Regions from separate parts of the Homo sapiens genome. Here region 2 is linked to region 1. The links come from fine-mapping of genetic effects on gene expression. Tissue or cell type: whole blood. Region 1 holds a variant in brackets; the other region holds the start of a gene. All regions are shown on one strand. Distances are between the middles of the regions.

Region 1 (7,748 bases):
AATTTTCCAAACGTTTGAATTCTATCCCTGGTCTGAGAGCTAGGGATGCAGCCTAGCAAGGGAAACAGGTAACTAATATAGAACAGCAGTACCTGCAAATATCTGTCTCTGTGAGGATAGATCAAATCCAGGCTTGGTCACTCACCACCCCTGTGATCTTGGACAACCTCTTAACCTCTCTGGGCTTCAGTTTCATCTGCTAAGTGGGAAAGCAGTGGTGTGTGGTGATTAAAAGCTTCAGCTTTGGAGCTGGATGGTCAACATGGAATCCTGGGCCTTAAACTCAGTGTCTCTGAGACATAGGACAAAGTACAGTCAGCTGTCCATGTTTACAGGTTCCCCATCTACGGATTGAAGCAACTGTGGGTGGTTAATATTTGTGGGGGAAAACAGTAAAAAATAACAGTTCAACAATAAAAATAATACAGATTCCGAAAGCAATACAGCATAGCAATTACTTATATAGCATTTACATTGTATTAAGTATTGTAAGTAATTTAAAGATGATTTTCAATATACTGGAGGATTTGTGTAGGTTAAATGCAAGTATTCTCGCATTTTGTAAGCACCCAATGGTTCTCCTTGCCTGCTTCCTAGACAGAACCAATTTATCAAGACAGGGGAATTGCAATAGAGAAAGTTTAATTCACACAGAGCTGGCTGAACAGGAGACCACAGTTTTATTATTACTCAAATCAGTCTCCCTGGAAATTCAGGGTTTTCAAGGATAATTTGGTGGCTGGAGGTGCTGGGGATTAGAGAGTGTTGATAGGTTGGATCAGAGAGGAAAGGAGTCAAAGCTGTCCTCTTGCACTGAGTCAGATCCTGGGTTAGGACCATAGGACCAGATTAGCCAGATTACAGGGCTGGGTGGCGTCAGCTGGTGCATTAGAACACGGGTTCTGCAAAATATCTCAAGCACTGATTTTAGGTTTTAGAACAGTGATGTTACTCCCGGAAGCAATCTGGGGAGGGTCAGAATCTTGTAGCCTCCAGCTTGCGTGACCTCCTAAACCATAATTTCTAATCTTTTAGCTAATTTGTTAGTCTACAAAGGCAGACCCGTTCCTAGGCAAGGAGGGGATTTGTTTTGGGAAAGGGCTATTATTGCCTTTGTTTCAAAGTTAAACTATAAACTAAGTTCTTTCCAACATTAATTCCACCTATGTCCAGGAATGATCAAGGACAGCTTGGAAGTTAGAAGCAAGATGGAGTCAGGCCAGATCTCTTTCACTATCATAATTTTCTCAGTTATGCTTTTTACAAAGGTGGTTTTGATTTTACATAAGGGACTTGAGCATCGAGAATTTTGGTATCCATGGGGACTAAGGTACCAATCCCTCACAGATACTAAGGGATGACTGAGCTCAAGTTTTCAGCTTCAGTTTGCTCATCTATAAAGCAGGTTTAATAATAACACTTTGTTGATAATGTTATTCTGAAGATTAAAGGAAGAGTAAACGTAAACTACTTAGAAGAGTGTCTCTGGCACATTGTAAGCCCTCAATAAGTGTGAACTAACACCACTAATAAGTTCTTTATAAACTGCCTAATAGGTAGTCAAATAAGAGGGGAAATAAAGCCCTAAGGAGTAATATTTGTGTTTTGTTTGCCCTACATGGTTTTGTGAAATTTTCTATTCATTATCAATATTTAAAGTTGGGGTTTTCAATCTTTGACTGGGCATGATGGCTCATTCCTGTAATTCCAACACTTTGGGAGGCCCAGCTGGGAGGATGGCTTGAGCTCAGAAGTTTGAGATCAGCCATGGCCAACATGGTGAGGCCCCCATCTCTACAAAAAAAATATATACGCGCGCGCGCACACACACACACACACACACACACACGCAAAAATTAGCCAGGCATGGTGGTGAACACCTGTGGTCCCAGCTACTCAAGAGGCTGAGGTGGGAGGACAGCTTGAGCCAAGGAGGAAGAGGTTGCAGTGAGCTGAGATTGCATCACTGCACTCCAGCCTGTGTGACAGAGCCAGACTCTGTCTCAAAAATAAATAAATAAACTTGGGACATTTCACATAAAACCCTACTGTAGCTGACTGCTCTGGAAAAGTGGGGAAGTCTGACGACAGTGGGCCAGCCTTCCCCCATGGCAGCACTTGTTCAGAACTTGGGAGAGACCGTCCCCTTTTGTGAAGCATGTGCTTCCCTGGTGTGTGGAGAGATAAAAGAATAGAAAACGCTGGGAACACCAGCATTTCAAGATCAAAGCGTCAAGAAAAAAAGGTAGAAAGAAAAGAAAGATTCAAGACTGAGGGGGTTGGTCTTTCACTTGAAGACCATAGAAGTGATGGAAGACCAGGAAGAAATGAGAGAAGGTTTGTATTTTAGAAAAAGAACTTGGGTATATCTATTCTTTTCAAACATGCTTGGAACATTTACAGAAATTGATTACTGGGCCACAAAGGAAGCTTCAAGAAATTCTCAAGAATCTATAGGTGACATTCATGAACCACATGCTGTGAAAGTGGCATCAGAGGCACATAGGAATACAGACTTTTGAGAAGGAGGGTGTGGTCAGAATCGTCAATGCTCTGGAGAGGTCGAGTAAGATGCGCCACTGATTTAGAATTTGATGGCCAACAAAGGCCATCTTAATAGAGAGGGGAGGAAGCCAGATCGAACTCCAAGAGTGAAGAGTGGAAGTTGAGGAAGTGGAGAGGGAATGCTGACTGCTCTTTTGGGAAGTATGGCTTCAGAAGGGAAGACTTGAAGACATAGGAGCAGAGATAATAATCCATAAAATAAAAACAGGCAGCCGGGTGCGGTGGCTCACGTCTGTAATCCCAGCACTTTGGCAGGCCGAGGCGGGTGGATCATGAGGTCAGGAGTTCGAGACCAGCCTGGCCAATATGGTAACACCCTGTCTCTACTAAAAATACAAAAATTAGCTGGGCATGGTGGTGCGTGCCTGTAGGCCCAGCTACTTGGGAGGCTGAGGCAGAAGAATCACTTAAACCCAGGAGGCAGAGGTTGCTGTGAGCTGAGATCGAGCCACTGTACTCCAGCCTGGGTGACAGAGTGAGATTCCATCTCAAAAAAAAAAAAAAAAAGAATTTGAGACTAGCCTGGCCAACATAGTGAGACCCCATCTCTACTAAAAATACAAAAAATTAGCCGGGCGTAGTGGCGCACACCTGTAGTCCCAGCTACTCTGGACGCTGAGGCAGGAGAATGTCTTGAACCCAGGAGGTGGAGGTTGCAGTGAGCCGAGACTGTGCCAGTGCACCCCAGCCTGGGCAACAGAGCAAGACTCTGTCTTAAAAAAAAAAAAAAAAACACCAAAAAAAAAACAGACAAAAAGGGATGGGGTCAAAGGTGTATAGCGACAGGATTACTGTTAACCTAGAGAAGAGAAGAGACACTTCTGAAACAGCAGGAAAAGAGGTGAAAGTGGCTAAAAAAAGCTCACTCCTGATGTTTTCCGTTTTCTCCGTAAGGTAGCAAACAGTATCAATCTTTGGCTGAAGAGGGCCTGGCGTGGTGGCTCACACTTGTAATCCCAGCACTTTGGGAGGCTGAGGTGGGAGGATTGCTTGAGATCAGGAGTTCGAGACCAGCCTGGGCAACACAGCAAGACCTCGTCTCTACAAAAAAAAAATTAAAAATTAGCCGAGTGTGGTGGCATGTGTCTGTAGTCCCAGCTACTTGAGAGGTTGAGGTGGGAGGATGGCTTGAGCCTGGGAGGTAGAGCCCAGGAGGTTGAGGCTACAGTTGAGGTTAAGGTTGAGGGATGGTGCCACTGCACACCAGCCTATCCCAAAAAAAGGTTGGGAGGTGCTGAGGAGATGCTAAGGGATTTAAGGGGAATGGATCAAAAGGTTTGGAAGAGACGCTGACGACAATGCAGAGATGAGTTCCTAGCTGAGGTTGAAACCAGAAATGTGTAGAGATGACAGTTGGTTATCTGATCCCTCCCTCAACACCCCCATCCCCATCCTGGGGGCTTCAGAGCAGAAGCTCAGCCTGGATTCATACTGAAGTGGGCCTTAGCTGGGGTTAAGCAACTGATTCATAGAAGGCCAAGTGACGGGAGAATGCTACTGTCAAGTGATCCACTATGGATCTGGCAAAAATAAAAAGAAGGGAAAGTGCTGACAAATTAAAATGGAAGCAGTACAGCAATCAGAGGCCTCTATGAGGTGAATCTCGTTCAGCAGGAACAAGTAGTGAGTAAGGATCGAAGTTCATCATGCAGAGTGGTCCCCCATGGGGTGACAGTCCTGCCTCAGTATGACTCAGAGGACGGCTCATTCCCTAGTGGGCTCTGTGAGTATTTATTGGGCCTTTGAAGTGCCAGACTTTGGACTCTCTATTCCTGGACAGCTCTGATGGTTCAGACTTCTCAAAGCTGACCCTAAAATGCATGAGAGCTATGAGTACATAAATTTGTTGACCACAAGGCGAGGGCCAAGGCCTTGGCTAGAGAGGAAGCTTCGGGAAATAATATGCTGAGGGTGTTGGTCTTTCACCCGAAGACCACAGAAGCTTATGAAAAGTAAGTGATGAGATCAGGCTTGTATTTTAGAAAAAAAAACTTTGGTATATCTATTCTTTACAGAAATTGACTATGTACTGGGCCACAAAGGAAGCTTAAATGAATTCCAAAGAATCTATAGACCACATTCACAAACCGCAATGTGGTAAAATTAAACATCAACAACAAAAAGAGAGCCAAAAAGGTGTAGATACAATACACCTTAAATTAGTAACTGCAGCTGCTTCTGAGGAAGGG[G/T]CCAGGAAGTCAGAATGAACTTTTTTTTTTAACCACGTACATCTATTACTTACGAATTTTTAAAAATTAAAAATTGGGCGGACGCACTGGCTCACGCCTGTAACCCCTGCACTTTGGGAGGCCAAGGCAGGTGGATCACCTGAGGTCAGGAGTTTGAGACCAGCCTGGACAACATGATGAAACCGCATCTCTACTGAAAATACAAAAAAATCAGCCAGGCATGGTGGTGAGTGCCTGTAATCCCAGCTACTCAGGAGGTTGAGGCAGGAGAATTCCTTGAACCCAGGAGGCAGAGGTTGCAGTGAGCCAAGATCGTGCCATTGTACTCCAGCCTGGGCAACAAGAGCAAAGCTCTGTCTCAAAAAAATAAAAATTAAAATTAAAATTAAAAATTATAAGCATATATTCGAGTTTTATTTCTTAAGTGAGGTGTTGAGTACAGGACCATGTACACAGGTATTATATTTTTTATATGTTGAAAGATTTTATCATACATTTTTAAAAGAAAAAGAACACATGTTTAGAAACTGAAAACATTCAGATTAAAAAGAAAACCAATATGGAAATTATAAAATATTTGGAAATAAATGACAATGAAAACCTGACATCATAAAACATGTGGGATCCAACTAAATAATTAGCTGGGCACGGGGTTCACGCCTGTAATCCCAGCACTTTGGGAGCCTGAGGTGGGCAGATCACCTGAGATCAGGAGTTCGAGACCAGCCTGGCCAACATGACAAAACCCCGTCCCTACTAAAAATACAAAAATTAGCCGGGCATGGTGGTGGATGCATGTAATCCCAGGTAATCAGCAGGCTGAGGCAGGAGAACCGCTTGAACCCTGGAGGCGGAGGCTGCAGTGACCTGAGATCACGCCACTGCGCTCCAGCCTGGGTGACAGAGCAAGACTCCATCTCAAAATAAAAATAATAATAATAATAATAATAATTAGAGGGGGACTTATAGCTTTATACTTCTTACAAAATAAGAAAAAATGTAAGGGAGTTAATTGTTAAAAGTTAGAAAAATAACAACTACAGAAACCCAGAGAAAGCAGAAGGAAGGAAATAAGAATGAAAAAGCAGAAATGAGTAAAACAAAGAACAAAAGAAAATGAAGTTGATTATAGAAGCCAAAAGCTGGTGTTCTCTTAATGACTAATAAAATAGAAAAACTTCATGTAAGATTGATCAAGAAAATCATACAAACAATACGATAAATGGCAAACTGAACATACCAGCTAGAGTAAAAATTTTAGAAAGCACAAAAGTATACCACAAACTTTATGCCAATACATTTGAAAAATTAGAAAAAAGGTAATTTTAACAAAAATAAAAATTACAAAACTTGACCCAAGAAGAAAAGTGTTAGGTTGGTGCAAAAGTAATTGAGGTTTTTGCCATTAAAAGTAATAATCACTAATGAAATCGAACTAGAAATATAGGATATGCTTCACCTCCTAAGATGTCCAGAACAAGTAAGTTTTACTGGAGTGATCAGCACACACAAAAAGACTATATTATGCAAAATTCACTGGAATATGAACAAGATAGAGAAAGCTATTCAACACATTCTGAGACTAGTTTAATTTTGACACCAAAAAGAGAACAGCAAAATTAAAGAAAATGTCAGGCTCATCTATATTACAAATATGTATTGAAAAAAATTCAGTCTACCAGTGTATCAAAAGAATATCTCTTCCAAAAGAGAAAATTCACATGGCCAAAAAATATGTGGGGACCAGGTGCAATAGCTCATGCCTGTAATCCCAGGATTTTGGGAGGCTGAGGCGGGTGGATCACTTGAGGTCAGGAGTTCGAGACAAGCCTGGCCAACATGGTGAAACCCCATCTCTCCTAAAAATACAAAAATTAGCTGGGCATGGTGGCAGGCACCTGTAGTCCCAGCTACTTGGGAGGCTGAGGTGGGAGAATCACTTGAACCTGGGAGGCAGAGGTTGCATTGAGCCAAGATCACACCACTGCACTCCAGCCTGGGTGATGGAGCTAGACTCCATATTAAAATATATATATATATATATTTATATATATGTATATTTATAAAATATATATTTAAATATAAATATAAAATATACATTTAAATATAAATATATATGGAAAGATGTTTAACCTCACTATTAGTTGGAAATAAAACAAGAAAAGGAAACCAACTTTTTCCCTATAAGAATGACAAAATGTGGTCAAGGGTAAAGAAAGACCAGTATTGTACGTATATGGTGGGGTTATAAATGTTGTATATAGCCCCTCTGGAGAGCTATTTGGTGTTACTGAAATTGAAAAAGCTTATCTAGCAATTCCACTTCTAGGAATTTAACTGAAGAAAATCTCCCATGTGTGCTTGAGATTTGCTGCAACAATGTGGTGGGAAAAAATGAAACGTCCTAAAGAGCCATTAATAAGGAAATCAAAAAGCAAGATAGTCATGTACCACGGGTGGTCATATAACATGAAAAGGAATGAATTAACTCACAAGTGTCTACATGAATGAATCCTGAAAGCATAGATAGAGTGGGGGAAAAGCAAGATATAAAGATGATACAGCAAGATCACCATTTATGCAAATTTGGAGCAGTGCAAAATGGCAATATTATAATTTGCCAGTAGATAAGCATATGCATATAAAACTATTTTCTATTTAAGGATTGAAAAGATTGTTATAAAGCTCAAGCTAGAGGGCCTCTAGGAAGGGGAAAGGAAGATTGGGATGGGAGAAGAGAATAAAGATCTTGAGGTTTATCTGGAATATTCTAATTTTATTTCTATTCATTTATTTTGAGCTGGAGTCTTGTTCTGTCACCCATGCTGGAGTGCAGTGACGCGATCTTGGCTCACTGCAACCTCTGCCTCCTAGGTTCAAGCGATTCTCCTGCCTCAGCCTCCCAAGTAGCTGGGACTACAGGTGCACGCCACCACACCCAGCTAATTTTTGTATTTTTAGTGGAGACGGGGTTTCCTCATGTTGGCCAGGCTG
Region 2 (7,748 bases), 40 kb after region 1:
GTGCAGTGGCATGATCATAGTTCACTGCAGCCTCGAACTCCTGGGCTCAAGGGATCCTCCTGCCTCAGCCTCTGAGTAGCTGGGACTACAGTGCACCACCATGCCTGGCCTGTTTTTTGTTGTTGTTGTTTGTTTGTGTTTTTTGGTAGAGACCGGGTCTTGCTATGTTGCCCAGGCTGGGAAACTATTCTTTTTGTTGCTACATGTGTGGATCCATGGCATTATACATTGTTAAGACCCAGAACTTGGCTGGGTGCATTGGCTCATGCCTGTAATCCCAACACTTTGGGAGGCCGAGGCTGGTGGATCACTTGAGGTCAGGAGTTCAAAACCAGCTTGGCCAGTATGGGGAAACTCCGTCTCTACTAAAAATACAAAAATTAGCCAGGCGTGCACCTGTAGTCCCAGCTACTTGGAAGGCTGAGGAGTGAGAATCGCTTGAACCTGGGAGGCACAGGTTGCAGTGAGTTGAGATCACGCCACTGTACCCCAGCCTGGGTGACAGAACAAGACTCTGTCTCAAAGAAAAAAAAAAGACTCAGAACTGTGCTGCAGAGGTTAGGCACAGTGGCTCATGCTTGTAATCCCAGCACTTTAGGAGGCTGAGATGGAAGGATAACTTCAGCTTAGGAGTCTGAGACCAGCTTGGGCAATGTAGCAAGACTGTCTCTAAAAGTATAAAAAAAAAAAAGCCTAGTGTGGTGGCATGTTCTTGTAGCCCAAGCTACTCAGAAGGCAGAAGCAGGAGGATCCCCTGAGTCCAGGAGTTCCAGGCTGCTCCAGCCTGGGCAACAGAGTGAGACCTTGTTTCCAAACAAGCAAACAAACACAAAACAAAACAAAACAAAACAAAACCCCGAGAAACAGTGAAACAATGTATGCTATGGACTTTAGTTTATAATAATGTATCAGCATTATAAGGAAGGCACTACACACTAATGCAAGATGTTGATAAAAGAGGAAATTTTGCATGGGGGAGAGGGATGTATGGGAACTCTCAGTACTATCGGCTCAATTTTTCCATAATCTACAATGGTTCTAAAAAATAAACTCTATTAGTTTTAAAGACCGAAAGGCTTGGAAACAAGTAAGCGTGTTAGGATATAATGAGGATTGAGCTTATACTGAGGCAAGACTTGGGAACCCCTAGATGGGGGAACAGAGGTTTTACTATCTTGGTGCCTTTGGACCTGCTCCCAGGACTGACGGAGCAGTCACAGATAAAGTCTGGGCATCTTGGGCAGGAACTTGAACAGTGGGACTGTATGCAAGAAGACATTTATTATCTCTCTTGCACCCGAGAACAATGCCCTGTTTTCTTTAACTTTGTAATTTGACATAATTTCAGACTGGCGGGAAAGTTGGGAGAAGAGTACAAAGAATTCCCGAAGTCTCTTCCCCCAGATTTCCTGAATGTCTTAGCCTCTGACCACAGCTGTGCTTTCTTTGCCTGTCTTCTCAATGCCACGTTCATCTCCATTTCACAACCAAGCAACAGACCAAGGCAACAGGCTTCGACTTTGCTTCTTTCTCATTTTCATCCTGATAAGAACAGCAATTGACATTTTGAATGCCTAATCCACGCCAGGCACTATTCTAGGCACTGCGATACGTACCTTGCCATTTCACCATTTCATAGCCCTATGAGGTGGGTCTATTATTATCCCCATTTTACAGATGGGGAAACTGAAGCACAGGGAGGATGATCTACTTTGCCCAAAGTCACATAGTCAATACGTAGCAGAGTTGGTATGCCAATGCCGGCAGTCTAGAGGCAAGCGAGGAAACCGACGAAGGATGACTTGACTGGGAAAACAGGATGGGAGCCCAGTTTGGGAGTCCAGGAGGGGATATAGCCCAAGCCATACATTCCCAAAGGACTTCAAAGGTAGACTTTTGCTGTCGTCTCCCGATGACATGGGGCACAAACTCAGAAACACAGACAGGACAAAGGCAGCTTGCAGGGCTGAACTGCCTGGGATGAAGCATCAACCGTGTGGGTGTGCGGATGTGTGAGTAATGAGTGTGAGGGAGTATGAGTGTGGACGGGAGTGGAAGTCACACCTAATCCAGAGGATTCCTATTCCTCCTGAAACCCAAGCTTCCAGGAAAGCCCTTCCTGTGGCCTTCTCTCCCTAGTCCTCTTAGCGTCTGCCTGGGCTGCCCCCAGTACGGGGTTTATTACACTCAATTGCTTACATCTGTTCACTTCAATTGCTTACGTCTGCTCACTTGTCAGTGCCCCAACCAGGTCCTCAGGGCTAGGAAGCAGGGGCTGGATCTATTTCTTGCTCTCCCTAGCCCCCAGCTCACGACTTGGCATATGGAGGCATCCACAAACAGATGCCGAAGGATGGGAGTTTTTCCACACTCCCACGCCACCTCCAGGTATTTGCTCATGCTGTCCCTTCCACCTGCATGTTTTTCTGCATTGATTCAGGCACTGGTCAGAGGTCACCTCCTCCAGGAAGCCATCCCTGACCCCAGGGAACTGACTTATCTTTACTGTCACTTCCGGGGGTGGGTTGGTGGCTGTCTTGCTCACTTGGTTGTAAGGTCTCAGAGGGCAGGGATTGTGTCTGTTTCATGTCTTCAGGTCTGCGTCATCAGCGCTTGTCACAAGGTTAGACACACAGTAGGACCAAGACAGACCAAGTACATGAAAGAATGATTGACATATGGGCCAGGCGTGGTGGCTCACACCTGTAATCCCAGCACTTCGGGAGGCAGAGGCAGGCAGATCACCTGAGGTCAGGAGTTTGATACCAGCCTGGCCAACATAGTGAAACCTCATGTCTACTAAAAATACAAAAATGAGCCGGACGTGGTGGTGCACGCTTGTAATTCCAGCTACTCAGGAGGCTGAGGCAGGAGAATTGCTTGAACTCAGGAAGTGGAGGTTGCAGTGAGCTGAGATCACCCACTGCACTCCAGCCTAGGCAATGGAATGAGACCCCATCTTCAAAAAAAAAAAAAGAATGATTGACGTGCAGTGGCCCCTGCCCTGGGAAGCCAACCCTCACCCTCCACCACAGCACTTGATCCCATTGGGCAGTCCTTGGCTTCCACCCTCAAACTGAGAGCTCCTTGAGGGCAGCAGGGGGTCAAATTACTCTCTGGGTTCTCAGCACTGCCCAGTGTGAGTCCAAATATCTCCCACCTCCCCTGTCTCCGCTCTTTCCTCACTCAGGGCTCCACAGCCATGCCGGCCTTCAGCAATTCCTCCTGCAGGCTGAGCTGGTTCCCACAGGGCCTTTGCACTAGCTCTTCCCTCTCCCTACACAAGTCTTCCCCCATAGGCTCTTCAGAGTCTCAGCTCAAATGGCCTCTACTCAAAAAGCCTCTTCCAGACCACCTGCCCCACTGGTCTAAGAGGTCCCTACTTTCTTCTTGGGCCCTCCTGACCTGAAATACTTTGTTGAGTGTTTTCCCCCCAGTCATCTGGCTGCATCCGGGTTCTTATGGTGTCCAGACGTTAATGGTCTATGGGGCCTGTGTTCGAATCCCAGCTCCACCCCTGCTCCTGCTTACCTGCAGAGTGATTCTGAGTTTCTTTCTTTTCTTTTTTAAAATTTTATAAATGTCAATTTTTGTAGATAGGGGTCTCGCTAACAGGGTTGCCCAGGCTGGTCTCGAACTATGGGGTTCAAGTGATCCTCCCGCCTCAGCTTCCCAAAGTGCTGGGATTACAGGCATGAGCCACTTTGCCCAACCCATTTTGAATTTCTTAAGGACTCTGTGCCTCAGTTTCCTGATTTGTAAAACCGGTGATAGTATCACTCCCTTATAGGGTAGTTGCCAGGATTGAACGAGTTAACATTTGCAGTGCCCGACAGATTGTACTAGTTACTGATTGAAGGGCTGTTTTACTATCCAAATGTGGCTGGAGTAGGAGTTGGGTAAACATTTATTGAAGAATGTGCAACCACTCTCACTTGGAAGCCGGGCTGTTAGGAAGGGGAGGAGGATTCCAGTCGCCCAGCCCTCCCCCACCAAACGCAACTGCCCCGGCGCAAAAGAGGCCGCGGAGGCCAGGCAGGAGCAGGTCCTGGAGGCCTGGTCGGCGTGGGCGTTTTATTCCGAGACCAAGGGGATCCACTGCAGAGTTCTCCGCTGGGCGTGACCTCGGGCTACGGCGTGGGAGGAAGCGCGCGGCAAGACACCCAGCGAGGTGCTGGGGTCGCCCCCAGGAGAGGACGGCGGCTCGGACTGTCCGGCGGCGGCGGCGGGGACAGCGACAGGGGCGCGAGGTGGCCGGGACCCGGGCCGGGCGCGCCGGGCGGGGCGGCGCATGCAAATCTGCCGGGCGCCGGGGCGGGGAGCAGGAAGCCGGGGCGGGCTGGGTCTCCGCGCCCAGGAAAGCCCCGCGCGGCGCGGGCCAGGGAAGGGCCACCCAGGGGTCCCCCACTTCCCGCTTGGGCGCCCGGACGGCGAATGGAGCAGGGGCGCGCAGGTAGGATCCGGGGCCCGCGCGCGGATCGGGTTGCGAAGGTATCGCCCGGGCACGCCGGCTGAGGGCGTTCGGGAAGGGCTCGGCCGCCGGCGGGGACCACGGGGACCACCCCGACTCCGAGCGGGGCCCGAGCCCGCGACTCTCGGTGCGCGCGGAGCAGCGCCCGGTTCCGTCCTTGCCGCCGAACGGCAGCGGAGGCGCGAGGCCCGGGGTACGTGGACACCCAGCGCTCCCCAAAGCCGGTGCTGGCAGTGAGACCTCCGCCGGGACGGCCTGCGGGGGTGGGGGGCTTGGGGTTAGGCTGTCGGAGGCCACGCAGCCCCTCTTCTCCGGGCAGTGGCGCCCAGCCCTGCGCTCAGGAAGTCAGTGAGGACTTCGGAGAGAGAAAGGGTGGGGAAAGTTCTGAGAACTGTAAATTTGAGTAGTAGGTCAGTGAATCGGGGCGGTCTCCGCCTCCGAATATCAGATGGACCCAATAATCGCGATCATTGACTGGGACTTGTTTTACTGAAAGGATGCCAAGTGAAACCTCCCACTAACTTCTCTGTGGCCGGTGCTGTGCGTCATGGACATTGTACAGATGAGGTCACCAAGACCCCAGCCGCTTTAGTAACTTGCCCTAAGGTGCCGCCCACTTGGGAGTCCGTGGGGCAGCAGGACTAGAGCCCAGGCAATCCCACGCCAGAGCCAGCTGCTCTCCATCTCTCAATCACGTTTGAGGAGCCCCCACAATAACCAGAATCTCCGGGAGATTTGCTTAAAATGCAGATTCCCAGGTCCTTGCCCTGAGATTCAGATTCAGTAAACCCAGGAATCTGATCTTTATTTTATTTTTAAAAATTTATTTTATAAAGATGGTGTCTCACTATGTTGTCCAGGCTGGCCTCAAGTGATCCTCCCACCTCGGCCTCCCAAAATGCTGGGATGACAGGTGTGAGCCACTGAGCCCTGATTTTTTTTTTAAACAAAATCTGGATTTCTTAGACTTAAGCAAGATAGGGGACCACTAGTTTGTCTGCTTCTGGGGTTCAAGGAATGCCCCCAGGCCAGCGCTAACCCTGCTCCAGTTCTAGTCTCTCCCCTTCCCCAGCCCTCTGGGAGGCATGACCCACTGCACTTCCCTGCCCCCAGTAGCCTATGAGGAGCCCAAGGCATTTGCTGGGACCTCAGTGCCTTTATCAAAATCCCAAAGTCCAATGGGGAAACAGGCTCAGGTGTAGGTTTGGCCAGGGTGTCCTGCACATTAGGGCATTCCAGGGTCCTGCAGGGGTTTCTTAGAACTCGGCTAGCCCAGCCCATGAATGGGAGGTGACCTGCTAAGCCACTCATTCACTCACTAGCACTCATTCAGCTCCTGCGAGGCCCTGGGTGGTGTTCTGGGCACTGGTGCTTGCCTCAAGGAGCACCCCCTCTGCAGGAAGACAGACGTGAGGGCTGGGAGGGTGCGGATGCACCAGCGGCTGCAGGACCACAAGCCAGAGGGGATCAGCTCTTCAAAGGTCACTGGGCCAGGCTTCCCAGCACCCAGGGACCCTGAGCTAGCCTTGTGAGTAGAGCAGGGGAGTCTGGCAGGTAGAGGATGGGAGGTAAAGGGAGGCACAGAGTGGGCGGAGGCTGGGAAGTGTGAAAGGGCACTGTGTACAGAACCTAGGGAGTAAGCAGAAGCCAGAGATGGATGGAAAGTTGGGCTGGGCTGCATTGTGGAAAGCCTTGAATGCCATGCCAAGGAACTTGGGCCAGTGTATTCACCTTGGCTTGAGTTGTAAAAGCAACAATGCAGATTCCTGGGCCCCACCCTGGGCCTCTGGATCTGAATCTGGAGGGAGACGCTGGGGAGGCAGCAGGGAGGAAAACCTGCAGTCACTCACCCCATTTACAACACATGCAGTTACCGGCAGGTCCGAGATAACCTAAGGGTTTCCAAATGCTAGGAAGTGACTCAATGACTGATATGTTTAATACAATACAATCCCGGTTGCAAAATGCCCAGGGCAAGGGTGGGGGTGTTCAGTTTTCTAATGCTCCCAGTTCAAAAAGGAGCTGAAATGAATTGTCAAAGAAGTGACAAGCTGGGCGCAGTGACTCACACCTGTAATCCCAGCACTTTGGGAGGCTGAGAGAGGATCGCTTGAACCCAGGAGTTTGAGACCAGCCTGGGCAACATAGTGAGATCCTGTTCCTACAAAAAAAATTTAAAAACTTAGCCAGGCGTGGTAGCAGGTGCCTCTAGCCCCAGCTATTTGGGAGGCTGAGGTGGGAGGATGGCTTGAGCCCAGGTGGTCAAGGCTGCAGTGAACTATGATTGTGCCACTGCACTGTAGCCTGGGTGACAGAGCGAGACTCTGTCTCAAAATAAACAAATACATAAATACATGAGAAGAGAGAACCTTTTCTACCTCCCCCATCTCCCTGCCCTCTTCCACCCACCCCATCTGGGACGATGGAGGAGAGCGTTTGGGATTAGATGCCCCACCTCTCGACTGCCCTCACTGGTACCTGGGAGTGAGGCCAGGACAGAAGCCGCCTAAGTACTGTTCTTCCTCACATTTGTAAAAGTGAACTTTCTTGAGGGTTGATGACATGTTTTATAAGCTACTTCACACAATGTCCAACACCCAGTGGGTCCACAATCAATGTATATGTCTGTTGTTACCTGTCAAAACGTATAGCTGGGGAGTGACAGTATGGACTTGAGCCAGATCACCCAGTGCAAATGCTGGCTTTGCTGCTTACTGTGTAACTGACTTCCCAGAGCCTCAGTTTCTGCATTTATGAGATTATAGTGACTATGCCATTGTAGTGATGACTAAATGAGTTAATATATGTCAAGCATACAAAACAGTACCTGGTATGTAGTACAAACTATGTATTTGTTAAATGAATACCTTTTTTTTTTTTTTAGAGCCATGGTCTCTCTCTATTTCCCAGGCTGGAGCACAGTGGCACAATCATAGCTCACTGTAGCATCCAATACCTGGGTTCAAGTAATCCTTCCACCTCAGCCTCCTGAGTAGCTGGGACTACAGGTGTGTGCCACCACGGCTGGCTAATTGTTTTTATATTTTTAGAGACAGGATCTTGCTATGTTGCCTAGGCTAGTCTTGAACTGCTGGTCTCAAGCAGTCCTCCTGCCTCAGCCTCCTAAAGTGTTGGATTTATAGATGCGAGCAAACGTGCCTGGCCTAAATGAATAAATCTTTACTGTTGCCTCCTTTGAGCTTTATTGGTTGGGATTTAGTCCACTCATTTTGCAGGTGAGAACTGAGACCCGGAGATGAATGCAGTAGCCTTGCCT

The links. PIP is the estimated chance that this variant, and not a neighbour inherited with it, causes the effect.
Region 2: IL4R starts here. The variant in region 1 is fine-mapped to the expression of IL4R in whole blood (TOPMed, PIP above 0.99).

Annotation. Positions count from the first base shown.
Region 1 is chr16:27,269,738-27,277,485 of GRCh38, forward strand. All of the region lies in intron 1 of NSMCE1-DT (NSMCE1 divergent transcript), which reads left to right. Among named protein-coding and RNA genes, the nearest start is that of NSMCE1, 4.8 kb to the left of the region's middle. RefSeq lists an enhancer at 1,917-2,465. The variant G/T (reference allele first, on the strand shown) is at 4,755.
Region 2 is chr16:27,309,568-27,317,315 of GRCh38, forward strand. IL4R (interleukin 4 receptor) reads left to right here and starts at 4,407. Exons shown (of 11, transcript NM_000418.4): 1 at 4,407-4,453. RefSeq lists enhancers at 1,598-2,797, 3,620-4,350 and silencers at 4,128-4,427, 4,448-4,657, 5,098-5,147.